Linked DNA regions of Homo sapiens: region 2 is linked to region 1. The links come from fine-mapping of genetic effects on gene expression. Tissue or cell type: uterus. Region 1 holds a variant in brackets; the other region holds the start of a gene. All regions are shown on one strand. Distances are between the middles of the regions.

What was found. PIP is the estimated chance that this variant, and not a neighbour inherited with it, causes the effect.
Region 2: ANKRD65-AS1 starts here. The variant in region 1 is fine-mapped to the expression of ANKRD65-AS1 in uterus (GTEx, PIP 0.98).

Annotation. Positions count from the first base shown.
Region 1 is chr1:2,310,136-2,318,135 of GRCh38, reverse strand. SKI (SKI proto-oncogene) reads right to left here. Exons shown (of 7, transcript NM_003036.4): 7 at 7,923-8,000. LOC124903824 (a long non-coding RNA gene) reads right to left here and starts at 3,141. Exons shown (of 4, transcript XR_007065362.1): 1 at 3,108-3,141; 2 at 2,138-2,190; 3 at 1,125-1,744. RefSeq lists enhancers at 2,075-2,828, 4,309-4,962 and silencers at 2,700-2,989, 3,140-3,299, 3,390-3,509. The variant G/T (reference allele first, on the strand shown) is at 3,874.
Region 2 is chr1:1,415,585-1,423,584 of GRCh38, reverse strand. It overlaps ANKRD65-AS1 (ANKRD65 antisense RNA 1), which reads right to left and starts at 3,419. Exons shown (of 2, transcript NR_187360.1): 1 at 3,021-3,419; 2 at 298-1,116. It overlaps ANKRD65 (ankyrin repeat domain 65), which reads left to right and starts at 2,309. Exons shown (of 4, transcript NM_001145210.3): 1 at 2,309-2,452; 2 at 2,580-2,788; 3 at 2,993-3,533; 4 at 4,036-5,165. The coding sequence starts at 2,580. The coding sequence ends at 4,485. RefSeq lists enhancers at 4,640-5,089, 5,257-5,336.

The DNA of each region.
Region 1 (8,000 bases):
CCCCCTGTGAAAGATCCTTTCCCATCGCCTGCCCCACGCAGGCCAGAACCAGTCCCTGAGTGCCGAGCCCGGGACGGGGTCAAGTGGAAGGATGGGGGCCCGTGGGCTGACCTCGGCTCGCCTGCCCCTGCTCACTGGGCCTGCGTCCGGGACTGGGCGCTGATTCCCGGGCAGCAGCCTCACACCCGGCACTGGGGCCTCAGTGAGTGGACAGACTTGCTGCCGCCGAGCAGCGTCCCTGCGCTGAGGGCGCGGGCCGGGGACAGATGTGGTCCCAAAGGCCTGGAGCAAGTGGTGACGGCCACCAGCCCCGCCCACGGCAGCCATGGTCTCCCAGGCTTCCCGGGCCTCCTCTGCGTGTCAGGGGGAGGGCGGGCAGCTCTTGGTGCTGGAGGTGGAAACACACCGGCTTTGGGGCCAGGGTGGCCATGCCACGTGACCGTCTGACTGCCAACACAGCGGGACATGAGCTGGGCTGAGGCCTCCTCCCAGGCTGGGCAGGGGCTCTGCTGGGCTCCTCCGGACCTGGTGGGCATGGTAGGGGCTGTGTCTGCCTCTGGCCTGCAGGCCACGGCCTACTGGTGCCACCCCTGGGAACCTGAGGCCAGGGACCAGGTGGCGGCTCTCTGGCAAGCTCACAAACACAGTGTGTTGGAGGTGGAGCCCCCAACCCCAGCCAGCCCCTTCTCCTGCCCCAGGAAGAGTCCTGGGGAGAGCTCCAGGTCCCAGCTCCGCCCACCTCCCTGTGCCCCTCCTACCTCCCTGTGCCCCTCCTGTTCCTTTGACCTCCAAACAAGGGAGCAGTGGCCATTCCTCCTTTCCTCCCACCCATGGTTACCAAGCGAAGATGACACCGAAAGAGAGCATCAAGCCAGTTGCTGCCATGGAAGATGGAGTCTGTGAGCCAGAGAAAGACAGAGATACACAGAGAGAGGCAGACACAGAGAGAGTCAGAGAGAGACACACAGAGAGGTAGAGAGACGGGGTGGGGATGGGGGGGGATGCCTGCCTCACCCCTTCAGCAGGGCCTCAGCCAGGACACCCTCCAGACCATGCCCAGGCCCCTTTGGCATTAGCAGAGGACAGCGTAGCCAGGCCACAGCCGGGAACCAGACAGGACCCACCTGACCTGTGTCTCCTTCCCAAAGCCTCTCCCTCTTCGCTCCTGGTGCCTAGCGGAGGGTCGAGACCCCTGTGCAGAGCAGCTCCTCGCAGGCAGGCCTTCCTGGAGGGCCAGGTGCCCAGCCCCATAGGCAGGTTCCTGCACAGCCTGGCCTGGCCTTCCCTGGGAGCCTCAGGCCTGGGCTGAGTAAGCCAGGAGTCGCTGGGCCTGTGGGCTGGCTCAGCAAGACCACAGCTCAGCAAAGTGCGCTCGGGGCTGACCACAGACCCATCAGCCCCTTCGTGTCCTGCCTCCAGGCCCAGGGGCAGCCGGCGAAGGTCAGGCCCAGGGCCTCCCGGATGACAGAGCCCCCAGCTGGGGCTTGCAAGGGGAGCTGCCAGGCCCAGGGCTGCCGGCCCTTCAGCGAGCCCTGGGGAGTCTGCCTGGGGCCAGGGTGGTGCCTGGCTGCCCTCTTGTCCTCAGCTTGACCTCTGGCGGTGGCACTCGTGAAAATGCTGGACACTCCTTCTCCTTGTACTTCCACCTCCCGCCCACGGCAACCAGAGCCAGGAGCCAGGCTGTGGGGGCTCCGAACACAGCTCCAGGGCCAGCAGGGCCTCCTCAGTCTGTGGCGCCGCCTTCCTGAGGACCCGTGGGGAACAGAGGTAGCTGCCCACACCAGCCCCCCAGCCTCCTTGGCTCCTGAGGTGGACCACAGCCAGGGAGGGCCCCCCAACAAGGGTCCAGGCCCTGCCCACCCCTGCCTTACAGCCCAGGAGTCCCCAGGGGGCAGGCCAGGACTCAGCCCCAGCTCTCTCTGCCCCTGCGCCCAGCTGCCCAGCCCAGTGGCTGCTCCCTGGAAACCCCTCGGGGACTGCATCTTGGCTCCCCAGTGGCCTCAGGGAACCAGCAGCCGTTCTCCGGCCTATCTGCAGCCAGGCCCCGTCCTGGAGACCCTGTCCCGCTGCCCCAGACCTGACCCCACTGGGTCCTCATCCACCCACACGTCGAGCATGTCCCCTGCTAGGGCCCCACCTGCCGGCTTCCATCTGGGGACAGGAGAGAGGACACGCATGGGCTCCACGGTCCTGCCCAGGCAGAGAGAGGCAGGCTGAGCACCACGGGGCTGCTATACCCCTGATGGGGTTAGCGGGAGGGGAGGCTCAGTGCCTGGGAACCTGAGGGCATTTCCTTCCACGGAGCTCCAAGCAGAAGCGGCCTGGGGCGCAGCCAGGCTCCCTGCTAGGAGGGCGGGTTTCAGGCCCACAGCTCAGAGCATGGGTGGGGTGCCTGGGCTGGGGGTCCCTGGGCTGATGGCCTGAGGGAGATAGGAGGCCAGGCCTGCAGGGAGCCAGGGGGCCCGTGAGGAGGAGAGACAGCTCTAAGCGGCAGGCCTCGGCGAGACCGCCTGTGTCTCATGGTCTCCTGTGGTTGGATCCACCGAGTCCCCCAGGTCCCTGCGGGTTGTGGCGAGTGGGCTCACGGAGAGAGGGCGGCCTGCGCCCACCTCCCCAGCAACGACTTGGCGGCTGGGGCCTGCGGGCCGGGATGGGGGGTGTGGTGGTTCTTCCCGGGAACGGACCCCCAACTGAGCAGAACAGGGAGGCCGCGCCCCAGAGAGAAAAGCACCCGAACCCGCCAGGCTGGGACCTTCCGGGAGGGCAGGGTTGGCAGGGACCCCCCAACCCCGAGCTCGGCCGAGCTGCAGTTCCCGCTTCCACCGCTGGGGGTCGCACCGCCGCCCCCGCCCCCGCCCCCGCCCCCACCGTGCCGCGGGCGGCGAAACCCGTGAAACGCGCGCCGCCTCCGCGGGGCCTGGGGTGGGGAAGGGGGGACGAGCGGGGGAAGAGGGGTACGGGGGGGAAGGGGGAACGGGGGGGGCGCTTCCTGCCGCCGCCCTGCTTCCCGCAGCGGCCTCTGGGGGCGGCCGCGCCCACCGACGGGAGGAGCCGCAGCCTCTGAGACCCCCGCACGTAGCCCGCCGGTTCGGGGGCGGAATTCCCACCTCGGGAGCCGCCCCCACGCTGCAGGAAGCTCCCAGGGCCTCCCGTCCCGCCCCCCAGCCCGGGCCTGCTGCTCGGACCAGCCGCCCCCGGGCCGGAAGCCCCCGCCCCACCCCGCCGGAATCCAGCGCTGGCCGCGAATCTGGGGGGCGCCGCCCCGGACGGCAGGGAGGGTGGGGTAGCGGAAGAGGCGGCGGGGGCGGGGGGGAAACTGAGGCTGCGGGGGGGAGCCTGAGGCTGCGGGGCTGCCCCTCCGCGTGGGGAAGTGGGGCCCGGCGCGCTCCGCCTGACTCGGGGCCCCCAGTGCCCCCGGACTGGGAACGGAACGGGCGTCGGGGAGGCCGCCCCGGCCCTGAGGACGCGGCGCGGGGCCCGGGACGTGCACCCCTCCCCACCCCCCCAGCGCGGCTTCCGGCCCGGGCGAAGGAGCGGGATTGGGAAGGTTTCGGAGCCGGCGCTGGAATTCCTGGGTAGTTCCTCCGCCACCGCCCTTCCCCCGCGAGGCCGGCCTCCGACGGGGCCTCTCCAGGGTGAGGGGCAGGCCCTGGCCTGGAGCCAGAAACAGGATTTCCCCGGATGCCAGGACAGCGCCAGGGCCGGGGACAGGCCGGGGCCCCACTGCGGGTTTTCTGTCCTGCGCAGCAGTGACCCCGCAGACTTCGCGCACGGGGCGCAGGATGGGGTAGGGGGCCCAGAGCCTTGGTCTGTCGGACCCTCAGCGGCCAGCGCAGGTCGGTGGTCATTTCGGAGTTCCGGCCACTGTCCTGT[G/T]CAGGAGTGACCCTGGAGGCCGCCTTGGTTTGGCCTGGGAGGATTCTAAACACGGAGGGGCCAACACCGAGACCCGAGAGACCCCGGCCTAAACCTGACCCAGTGCCGGCCACACCAGCCACGGCCCTCCTGGCATCCCTGGGATCACAGAATGGGACAGCCTCCCCACCCACAATCCCCCCAGGCCCTGGCGAGGGCAGCTCCTCCGACGCTACAGCCTTTTTCCTAGGACTGTTTTTCCTTAGAAACAGGAAGCTGGGGCATGGGCATCACGTCCCTCGGGTGCAGGCCCCACCAGGGGCAGGGCAGAGTGGGGCTGGACCACAGGGCACACAGTACCTTGCCCAGCTCCTGCCCCAGGGTGGGCACAGCAGGGCGCAGGGCGGTGTCCATCTGCAACTGGTAGCCTGGCCTAACCTGGGCATAGCACCGACCAGGGTCATTTCACCCAGCTGGGGGCATCTCCATGAGGGAGGACACGCAGAGCTCCATCGTCTGTCCCTGGTTCCTGCTTGCCCTCCACCAAGACCCCAGCCTGGCCAGGCCCACCTTGCAGGAAGGGCCAGAAGGTTCCGACAGCAGAGAGGGGGACAGGGCTGTCAGGGAGAATCTGGCAGGGCCAGGCCAGGGGGGCAGCAGCTGGCACTGGCCAGGGTACACGGGACCCTCCAGGGTTCGGGGCTGGTGGCCTGCCCGGCCCCCACCAAGGCCTCTAGACGGCCCTCGACCCTCCACACCCCTGGTCTCTCGTTCTAGATCTGGATGGCACCCAATCCTGGTTTCTGGGCTGAGCTGGGCAGCCAGGAGCCCACCCTTCCAAGCCAGCCAGTTGTATCTCCACGGGGCCTGGGCACTTGGCACCCCTATACCTAAGAGTGTCCTTGGGACAGCTGCGGGGAGGGGCAGGAGACTGGGAGACACTGCTGCCTGGGCTGACCCAGGGAGCCCCTGCCTCCAGCCCCTACCTCCCCACCTCCCCACGGTTCCCTGTCCCTGGAAGTTTCTGGAACAGGCCTCCTTTGCAGGAGGAGCCATGGAGGCCGAGCCTGGGCTGCACTTCTTGCCAGTAAGAGCTGCCAGGCCCGGCCATGGGAGAGAAAGGTCCGTTCCCAGCCCGGCTGGACACCTGGCCCAGCACAGGACACTGCAAAGACAAGCCAGGCTGGCCAGGCTGCCCCTGCCGGTCCTCACCCGCAGCGGGGCCACCTGCTCCAGGGCTGGGTGCCCCAGCCATTGAGGCCCCCACCCACCTGGCACAGGCCAGGCACAGATGGCCATGTGCGTCACTGAGACCGGGGGGTGGCAGGGCTGGGCGGGCATCCAGTCCCCAAATGTTCTGTCCTCACCCCCTCCCCAGGGTCCGCTGTGGGTGGAGTAGACAGGGCAGTTTCTGTGGGGAGGGTCGGGACCCCCCCGGGGCCAACACATCAGGGTCACGACCCCATCATTTCTGGAGGGCAGGCGGCCCTGGCCTGGGGGTGTCCCTGTGGGCTCCGCACCTCCTTCCAGCGGAGGCTCCGTGGGGTCAGAGGCCGGGTCGCCTGGAGCAGGACCAGCAGCTGTGCAGAGGCTACGAGAACAGAGTGGGTGGGGGCTGCCTCTTCCTGGCCAGAAGGAAGTGGGGGAGTCAAAGCAGGTGCTGGGACGTGGGGGTGGCCAGGCCTGGGCCAGGATGGGGTCGGGGTCTGGGCCTGTGGGCTGGGGCAATGGGTAGAGCCCCTCATGCAGCCATGAGGGGGTGTCCAGCTTGGGGGCCCCTGGCCATGCCCTTGGAGCACTGCGCTGGGGCAGGAGGGCGGGTTGGGGGTGAAGTGAGGGAGGAGCCGGGTCCCTGCTTAGGCTTAGGGCTGGGGCCGGACACGCGGGGCTGAACCAGTGGCTGCAGTAACTGGTCAGCAGTCTCCACTCCCCACCTAGGACGTGCTGGCCGCTGCCTCCCCAGACAAGGTCAGGCTGCTCAGCCGTTGTCGGCCCCCTTGACCACAGGCTGGTGGGTGAAGGCTGGCAGGACTGTGGCTCCAGGAGGAGGGGGAGACCAGCACAGCTGAGACCTAAGGACAGCTGTTGGTGACTGAGGCAGAAATGGGTGGGGCACAGGGTGGGGCAGAAACTAGGGAGGTGGGGGAGCCCCCATCCCCTTCCCTGAGCTCATCTTCCCCAGACCCCAGCTCTTGGGGGCTTGGGAACAGGCACTGCCAGGAACAGGGGTACTGGGAGCTGCCCTTCCAGGGAGCTGAGGCTGGAGGGCTAACCCGTGGTCCCTGCAGAGGCCCAGGCAGGTGTGAATGCTGGGAGTCCTGAGCCTGAGGATGCAGAGGTAGGGTGGGGAGGGCCATCTCTCTCCCCCCACCTCTGCCCTCCCCTGGCATGGAGGCAGGGAGCTTCTCCCACCCAGGCCTCCTCTCCCCCAGCACTCAGGAGACCCCTGGATCCCTTCGGAACAGCTTTGGGAAGAGGGTTCTGACCCTGGGTGACGGCTGGCCTAGCTCAGCAGGTGGCCAGAGCCCTTTAAAGCTCTAAGTTTATACCCAAAGGTAAACACCAAAGAGAAGCCTGGGGCAGCTTGGGGAACAACTGAGCCCAGAGCACCGCCCCTCCCTGCCCCCACGTGGCTGCTGGAGGCAGTGCCTTTGAGTCTCCGGGAGGGTCGGGAGGGCCGTCATCAAGCCCTGCGGTGCTCAGCTCCGAGGCAGAGTGCCCATGTGGCCACAGGGACGGTCCTCGAGGCCCACCCAGGACCTCGGCCCAGCCCTTCCCCAACTCCTCCCCACTGCACTGGACCCCGGGCTGGTCCTCTGTGCTCACAACTGACTCAGTCTCAGGGTCCTGCCAGCGGCACTCTGGAGCCGCCCATCCTCTGCCCCCCAGAACATGCACGTGCCCAGGACCAGTCCACACCCACTCCTGCTGTGGCCCATGTTCCCCTCGGCCCACGCCCCTGCCCACTGCCCCCAACACCCAGGGGCCTAGCCTGGATGGAGAAGCCAGGCCCATGTGGAGTGGGTGTTTTGAGGCCTGCTGGGGTAGGCCTGTGTGGTCTAGAGGCCGCCCTGTACCCTCCGTGGGGGCTCTATGAGCCCTTTGGGGCCCTGGGCAGGGAAGAAGGAAGCCCCTATGTGGCAGTGAGGGGAGGGCCAGGTCTGCTCTAGCCCCAAGCTTGGGGGCACTTCCCGAGGGGTGGAGAGAAGAGATGGGGACCTGGAAATTGTGCCGGGAGGCTGGGGGGAGGGGCCGGCTGGAGCCCCTACCAGCCCATGCCTTTCTCGGACCACAACCCAGATGACCTATGAGGGCCTGGATGGGCTGGAGATGCTGGATGTGATGGCCTAAGGAAGCCTAGAGAGGTGGTGGCCTGGCACCCCAGGGAGCCCACCCGGGGCTGTGCCTCCATGAAATTGGCATGCGGCATGGCACCTCCAATCCCCAGAACAGGGGTCTGGGAAGGCCCCCCTGTGAGGTCAGGTGGGGAGAAGGGACCTCTGTGTCTCCCTCGGGGCAGCTCGCTGGGGTCCAGGGTTCTGATGCCACCTCCCCTCTCCCCCGCAAGTAACCCAGGAGCTCCTCAGGGAGCTGGCGATCCACCCCTTGGGGACAGGTCTGTCCGTGCGGGAGCTGGACCTTGGCCAACCGCAGGTGCGGCCTCAGAGGCCCCCGTGGAGGCCCAGCCGGGAAGGCCCCATCCCATCTTCTGTCCTGGCACTGCACTCTGTGGGGCTTCCTCCCAGCCGGCCCAAGGCCACGGTGGCCTCAAGCCAGGGCTCCAGCCACATCCAGTGCTACAAGCAGGGACTGCAAGCTCCCTGAATCGCAGAGGAAACCGTGGCCTTGCCCAGCTCAGAGGGGACGGGGACTAGGTGAGAGGGCAGTTGTGCCAGGGCGGCCGCCTGGACCCCACGTGCCCTCGGGGTCGACGGAGACTCCGAGGCCCACAATCTGACCTGTGACAGCACCCCCACCCACGATGGCCTGAAAGCGAGGGGGTCCCAGCCGCCCGTGTGTGGCCGGTCTGGGGAGGGGCTGTGGTGGGCGCACGCACAGCTGTCCCGCGGTCCTCTCAAAGTCCTTTATTGTACAATGTCATCTGTTTCGGGGTCGGGGAAGGACTAACAGGTACACAGCGAAATAGA
Region 2 (8,000 bases), 890 kb after region 1:
ATCACTTGAAACTGGCAGATGGTGGTTCCAAGTGAGCTGAGATCACACCACTGCACTCCAGCCTGAGTGACAGAGTGAGACTCCGTCTCAAAAATACAAATAAAAAGTTTTAAAAAGTTGCAAAACCTCTGCTTTCTAAGTGCCCCCCAACCAGGTCTCTCGCTTATTCATTCAACAAACACTGCTGAACTGCTACTAAGTCCCAGGGACTGTCATCGGAAAAGGAGGTCCCGATCCAGACCCCGAGAGAGGGTTCTTGGACCCCACACAAGGAAGAATTCGGGGGAGTCCACGGAGTAAACTGAAAGCAAGTTTAATAGGAAAGTAAAGGAATAAGAGAAGGGCTGCCCCATAGGCTGAGCAGCGGCCTGGGCTACTCCGACGAGAACACTTATTGTTGTTTCTTGATATGTACTAAACATGGTGTGGATTATTCCGGACTTTTCCGGGAAAGGGGCAGGCAATTCCCGGAAGTGAGGGTTCTTCCCCCTTTTAGACCATCTAGGGTAACTTCCCGGCATTGCCATGGCAACTGTAAATGGTCCTGGTGCTGGTGGGCGTGTCTCATGCTAATGTATTATAATCAGCACATAATGAGCAGTGAGGACTGGCTGTCTTGGTTTTGGTGGTTTGGGGCCGGCTTCTTCACGGCATCCTGTTTTATCAGCGGGGTCTTTGTGATCTGTATCTTGTGCTGATCTCATCCTGTGACTAAGAATGCCTGACCTCCAGGGAATGCGGCCCAGCCGGTCTCGGCCTCATTTTACCCAGCCCCTGTTCAAGATGGAGTCGCTCTGGTTCGAACGTCTCTGCAGAATCACTCCAGGTTCTTTGGATTCATGGCAAAGGGGCTGCGGCCTCTGCCCCTCCGTGCCCCACTGTGTGTGGGTCCTACAAGCATTGCAGAGGCAGCTGTGGCTGCCCCCACTGCGGTGGAACCCGGGAGACGGGAGTCTTGGGAGGGGCCTCCTCGAGGTCCATTCTAGCCGCTGTACCCCTGGGAAGCTGGCGTGAGGTAGTTTCTGTGGCCTCCCTGGCCCTGATGAGTACGGGACTTTCCACCCAGCCCCCAGAGCTCCTCGCTTCTTTCCCGGTCAGCCTTACGGAGCTTTCCTTCTAGAAGAGGAAGGCAGACATTTAAATAAACACATAGATACTTTCCTGTAGTGATAAATGCTAAGAACAAACTAAAACAGGGTTAGAGTCGCACGTTGCCTCAGATCCACCTGTGGTCAGGATCTGGGAAGGTGACGGATGAGTAGCCTGATGAGGTTTGTAGGGCAGGGTCTGTGTGGCTTGGGGGGTGGTGGGATGGGGCCCCTGGTCCCTTGGGCCCTTGGAGAGGCAGTCCTCTAGGGAGTGGGGGAGGCCAGACCAGGGCCCTCAGGAGACCCTGTCCTTGGGGACCTGGGAGGCTGAAGGGGGCTGGGGTGGGAATGGGTAGCCCTCATTACCTTTCCCGTGCAGCCGCTGGAGGGGCCAGGCTGCTGCAGCCACCCCAAAGAGCCATGCTCCCTTCTCCTGCCTGGCCCCAGGTACTGGGAGACAGGAAGATGCCCTCAGCACCAGCCCCACCCATCCTGCCCCAGGCCCCCAGGATCCCGCTGCCCCAGGCCTTGCTGGGGCAGAGCTGCTTTTCCAGATGCAGACGCACCCTAGCAGGGATTCTCCCCACTCTCCCGCCTGCCCCCCGACCCCCGCCCCCACCTGCCCAGGCATCTGTCCCTTCCCTGGCTCCAGACTTGCCCCAGCCAGTCCCCAAAGGGTTTTCGTCCCTCCCATGCCAGCGCCACCCTCTTTTCCAGGCCACCTGCCTGGAGTCCTTGGTGAATCTTTTGTCCTGTCCAGCATTTACAGAAAGGAAGGCCAGAACCTCACCCTGCCCTCCTCCCCAGCCTGGAATCGGGAGGAGGGGCCGGCACCCACCCCTGGGTGGGCTTAGCCAGCTGGGACAGGAGTGGGTGAGGGGGCTGCCCGAGGGTGGGCCCCATGGAGAGCCCTGTGAGGCCTTCCAGGGGCACATCGGGGTACATCCAAGGCTGCGCTTCCTGGGGGAGGTGGCGTCTGAGCAACTTTCGTCCACAAGCATGTTCCTGCTTGTCCTCCCCAACCGCCTGGCCTTTGTTCCCCAGGAGGGCAGCCGAACTGGGGCCCTGGCAGCCAGCAGGGGAGGGAGTATGTTGGACAGGGGGCTGTGCCCGAAGGCAGGGCCTTCCTAAGTGGCTGAGTAAACAGCGTCAGGTGGCCTCAGCCTGGCCCAGGGGACCAGCTGTGTTCTCCCACCCCCTGCAAGGCTGAAGCTGCCACCATTCAGCTTTTCAGCAGCAGACACTCCACCCCAAAGCCTGCAGAAGGGATTTTGTGAAGAGGGTCACCAGGCTGAGCCTCGGCCAGAACCCGTCTACAGAGGACCCTCAGCCAGAGCAGAAAGCTCCTGAGCCAGCTCCCTTGGGTAACAGAGCCAAGCCCCTCTGAAGGCTAAGTGGTAACTGGAATGGGGGGCTCCAGTTGGCCTGGGACACGGCTGGGGGCAGGCCAGAGGCCTCCACAGTGGATGTAGGATCCCTGCTCCCCCCCAGATGGACTCCCAGAGGCCTGAGCCCAGAGAGGAGGAGGAGGAGGAACAGGAACTGCGGTGGATGGAGCTGGACTCCGAAGAGGCCCTGGGAACCAGGACAGAGGGGCCTAGTGTTGTCCAGGGCTGGGGGCACCTGCTCCAGGCCGTGTGGAGGGGCCCTGCAGGCCTGGTGACGCAGCTGCTGCGGCAAGGTGCCAGCGTGGAGGAGAGGTGCACCTGCGCTGGGGGGTGAAGGGGTCCCTTCTCTGGGTGGGGCAGGATGGGGGTCCCAGCACTGGGTGGGTGGAGGAGTCCCTTCTCTGGATGGGGTAGGACGGGGGTCCCAGCGCTGGGTGGGCGGCAGGACGGGGTGGGGCAGGGCGGGGTTCTGGTCAGTGGTCCACCCCCGCGCCGACGCCCTTGCCCCCTCCTCAGGGACCACGCAGGCCGGACCCCGCTCCACCTGGCCGTGCTGCGGGGCCACGCGCCCCTGGTGCGTCTCCTGCTGCAGCGAGGGGCCCCGGTGGGCGCGGTGGACCGGGCGGGGCGCACCGCGCTGCACGAGGCCGCCTGGCACGGACACTCGCGGGTGGCCGAGCTGCTGCTGCAGCGCGGGGCCTCGGCGGCGGCTCGCTCCGGGACGGGCCTCACGCCGCTGCACTGGGCCGCTGCCCTGGGCCACACGCTGCTGGCCGCGCGCCTGCTGGAGGCTCCGGGCCCGGGACCCGCGGCAGCGGAGGCGGAGGACGCGCGCGGCTGGACGGCGGCGCACTGGGCGGCCGCGGGCGGGCGGCTGGCGGTGCTGGAGCTGCTGGCGGCCGGCGGCGCGGGCCTGGACGGCGCCCTGCTCGTGGCTGCCGCTGCGGGGCGCGGGGCGGCGCTGCGCTTCCTCCTGGCGCGCGGGGCGCGGGTGGACGCCCGGGATGGCGCGGGGGCCACAGCGCTGGGTCTGGCGGCCGCCCTAGGCCGCTCCCAGGTACGTCCCGCCCTCCGCCCGGCAGTGATGGGAGGGGGCGCAGGGCCAGGATCCCCAGAGACGTGCCACCGGGGCAGCTGGAGCCAGGCTGGGGGACGGTGTCCAGGCACGAAGGCCCTGAGCGCGCCCCCGGCTGTGCCCCTCCGGTGTAGCCCCGTCCCGTGGAGACCAGGGCGGGATCCGAGGCCCGGGGCTCGGCTTCATGCTGGTGGCAGCAACAGACTCTCCGCCAGCGCCGGGCCTGTGCCTGAGACCCCCGTTCCTGGGCAGCGGGCAGGGTGTTGGCTGCAGATCCTTGGATTTGCTCTAAGGACTCTTAGGGGGAAAAGTGGACGTTTCCAAGCAGGCCAGCCTTGGGTTCGGCCTCACAACATGAGGAAGTGGTGTCAGGAGAGACAGGCCGCTGCGGGGACAGAAGAGGCCTGGGCTGGGCAAACGCCTGGTGGCTCTGCCCCTCGCCTACCGGGCTGAGGCCGGCCCCTGCTTTTCTCTCCTCTTCTAGGACATTGAGGTGCTGCTGGGCCACGGGGCAGACCCAGGCATCAGGGACAGGCATGGCCGCTCTGCGCTGCACAGGGCTGCCGCCCGAGGACACCTGCTTGCCGTCCAGTTGCTGGTCACCCAGGGGGCCGAGGTGGATGCGCGGGACACCCTGGGCCTCACACCCCTGCATCACGCCTCTCGGGAAGGCCACGTGGAGGTTGCCGGCTGCCTGCTGGACAGGGGTGCCCAGGTGGATGCTACCGGCTGGCTCCGAAAGACCCCCCTACACCTGGCTGCAGAGCGAGGGCATGGGCCTACCGTGGGGCTTCTGCTGAGCCGAGGGGCCAGCCCCACTCTGCGGACGCAGTGGGCCGAGGTGGCCCAGATGCCTGAGGGGGACCTGCCCCAGGCGCTGCCTGAACTTGGAGGGGGGGAGAAGGAGTGTGAGGGCATAGAGTCCACGGGCTGAGCCAGACAGCAGGCTCCAGGCTCCACCGCCCCAGTGATTTCCAGGCTCTCTGGCTGAGGCTGCCTGCCTGGAGGGGACATCAGGGAAGAGGCTTCCGGAGGAGGGGATGGGAGAAAGTAGGGGATGTGGCTTGAGCTGCAGTCACAGGCCTTGGCTGGACCAGGGATGGCCCCCAGCTCCCAGGAGGGCCCACTGACCCTGCAGCTCCAGCCTTCTCCATACTTCAACAAAGAATGAGTTGTGGCAATGAGGGAAGAGAGACCCTCTCATAGTGTTTTATACTCAGTACCTGTTTTAAGAAAAAACAACAAGGAAGTAAAACCAAAGACAGGCAGGCAGCCTGGCGCTAGGCCCGAAACCAGGCCTGCGCCTGCCTGGCCTAAACCCAGTAGTTGAAAATCAATTCATAACTTAGAAACCGATGTTATTCATAGATTCCAGACATTGTATAGAAGAACATTTGTGAAACTCCCTGCCGTGTTCTGTTTCTCTCTGACCGCCGGTGCATGCAGCCCCTGTCACGTACCGCCTGCTTGCTCAAATCAATGACGACCCTTTCATGTGAAATCTTCGGTGTTGTGAGCCCTTAAAAGGGACAGAAATTGTGCACTTGGGGAGCTCGGATTTTAAGGCAGTAGCTTGCCGATGCTCCCAGCTGAATAAAGCCCTTCCTTCTACAACTGGGTGTCTGAGAGGTTTTGTCTGCGGCTCGTCCTGCTACATTTCTTGGTTCCCTGACTGGGAAACGAGGTAACTGACAGACGACCGAGGCAGCCCCTTAGGCGGCTTAGGCCTGCCCCGTGGAGCATCCCTGCGGGGGACTCCGGCCAGCCTGAGTGACGTGAGCTAAAGAGCGCTCCCGGGTAGGAAATTGCCTCGGTGGAACACCTCGCCAGAGCAGCCCATAACGGGCCCCCATGGTGGATTAACACAGTGGCTGAACACCGGGAAGGAACTGGCACTTGGAGTCCGGACATCTGAAACCTGGTAAGACTAGTCTTTGGAACTTGCCCCACTCCACCTGAGTAGACGCGTGGCCTGATCGCCCACGGCGTGCCTGCATTAGCACCTTTGTTCTGGTTTTGACTTGACTGAGATCATGTGATACTTTGGTTTTGGTTTTGACCTGGCTTGGATTTCTGGATACTCTGATTTTGGTTTTGATTTTGGTTTGGTGTAAACTGCAAAAGTGTGTGTGTGCCCTTTTTACCTGTTTTTTGTTTTGTGGTGTGAGCGTGGTGTTTTGTCTTGAAGAAGCGTGGGTCAGGCACAGATAAGCCCACCCCACTAGGAACTATGTTAAAAAAAATTTTTCAAGAAAGAATTTAAGGGAGATTACGGTGTTACTCTGACACCAGGAAAACTTACAACTTTGTGTGAAATAGACTTGTCAGCATTAGAGGTGGGTTGGCCATCAGAAGGAAGCCTGGACAGGTCCCTTGTTTCAAAGGTATGACACAAGGTAACGTGTAAGCCAAGGCACCCAGGCCAGTTTCCGTACATGGACAGTTAGAGCAGGTTTTAGACCCCCTCCCCCCTACGGTAGTTAAGAGAACAGCAGCATAAGCGGCTGGCAGAGGCAAGGAAAGACCAGCAGAGAGAAAAAGAGGCCATCTATACCAATTCTAAGTTAATTTAGACTAAACAAGGTCTTATTAATAGCAAAGGATAATTGAAATCCCAAACTTCCAAGGTTTTCAACAAAAGCGAAGTTTGCTAAAAGTTAACAGTGTAACATGTTAATGGTAACTTTTAATCTTGTGGCCTCAGACAGTCTAGTCCAAAGACATAAAAAAAGTTCGCTTTAAAAAAGAAAAAAAAAGGGGAGGCTGAATTTATGTGAAAAGCATGTTATACGGTAAATTCTTGTCCTGAAATATATTAACTGGTTGTTTAAAAGTTTGTAATAAGGCAGAAAGTTGAGATATGTTGAAGAATTGTCGGCGAAAGTTGTAAAACAAAATGTTATAAAAAATTTATGCAAAAAATGTTGTATAATTTAAAAGTAATAAGGCCTCCTGAGTACTATTTTTTTTTTTTTTTTTTTTGAGACGGAGTCTCACTCTGTTGCCCAGGCTGGAGTGCAGTGGCGTGATCTCGGCTCACTGCAAGCTCCGCCTCCCGGGTTCACGCCATTCTCCTGCCTCAGCCTCCCGAGTAGCTGGGACTACAGGCGCCCGCCACCACGCCTGGCTAATTTTTTGTATTTTTAGTAGAGACGGGGTTTCACCGTGTTAGCCAAGATGGTCTCGATCTCCTGACCGCGTGATCCGCCCGCCTCGGCCCCCCAAAGTGCTGGGATTACAGGCGTGAGCCACCGCGCCTGGCCCCTGAGTACTATTAAAAAAAAAAGTTTATGTGCAAGGTGTACAAGAAAAGTAAAATATACCTTTGGTAAAAAAAATTATAAAGGGGCATAAAAATATGGATTTTTACCTACATTAAAAGGTTAAAAAAATTATTGTTTTTAAGAGTTTAAGCAAGTTTTAAAATGTAAATTGTAAAGAAAATTCTGTGTGTAAACATGTTAACTAAAGTTAAAAAGGTATCGTCCAGTTTTTCTGTGAACTGGACATTAAAGTAAAAATGCAACAGGTTTTTCTTAAAGCATCAACCTGCTCTTTAACAAAAGTTATAAAAGGTTAAAAAGAGTCTATAAAATCTTACCTTATGGTCAAACATGAAAAATTGGATAAATATGTCTACAAGGTTTTATTAAAATTAAGTTTAACATTAATAACACACTAATATAAAGGTAAAATTTAGCTTATCTGGTATAAAAATCATACAAGAAGCATTATTAAATATAAAATGGTGTTTAGCTTTCTTTGGTCTAAAAACTAATAAAAATAGGTGCTAAAGGAAACATTCATTTTACTAGAGGATCATGGAAGTTTAAGACTTAAAACAAACTTTGGCAATTAAGACAGCATACCAAGATGCAAAATGCCTGGTTGAAATGGATCAGATATTCCATCTGATGTTAAACAAAAGCAATTGTGATGCTCGTGCACATGGCAGGCCAAAGGCTCTGATTGTCCCCCTTCCACTAAGGTGGTCCTTCAGTCGACCAGGCGTGGGCTGCACGGTAGCTCTTTTCCAGGATTCTACAGCCTGGAGCAGCAAGTCATGCCAAGCTCTCCCCGCTACATTCTGCAGTCCCTGCGGGTCAGCCCCCGAGGGCCATCCAGCTTCCGTCTCCCAAAACTAAGTTCCCTTCGTGTCTCTCACGGCAGGGAGGAGACTTAGCAGTCCTTGGAGACTGGAAGGGATGCAGTGAGCTTAAGAATTTTCGAGAGCTTATCAATCAGTCAGCCCTTGTTCATCCCTGAGCGGATGTGAGCGGATGTGTGGTGGTATTGTGGTGGACCTGTACTGGGCACTCTGCCGAATAACTAGAGTGGCACTTGTGCTTTAGTCCGTTTGGCTATCCCTTTCACCCTGGCATTTCATCAACCAGAGGAGAAAAAAAAAAAAAGACATCGTAAAGCGAGAGAAGCCCCTTATGGGTCTTT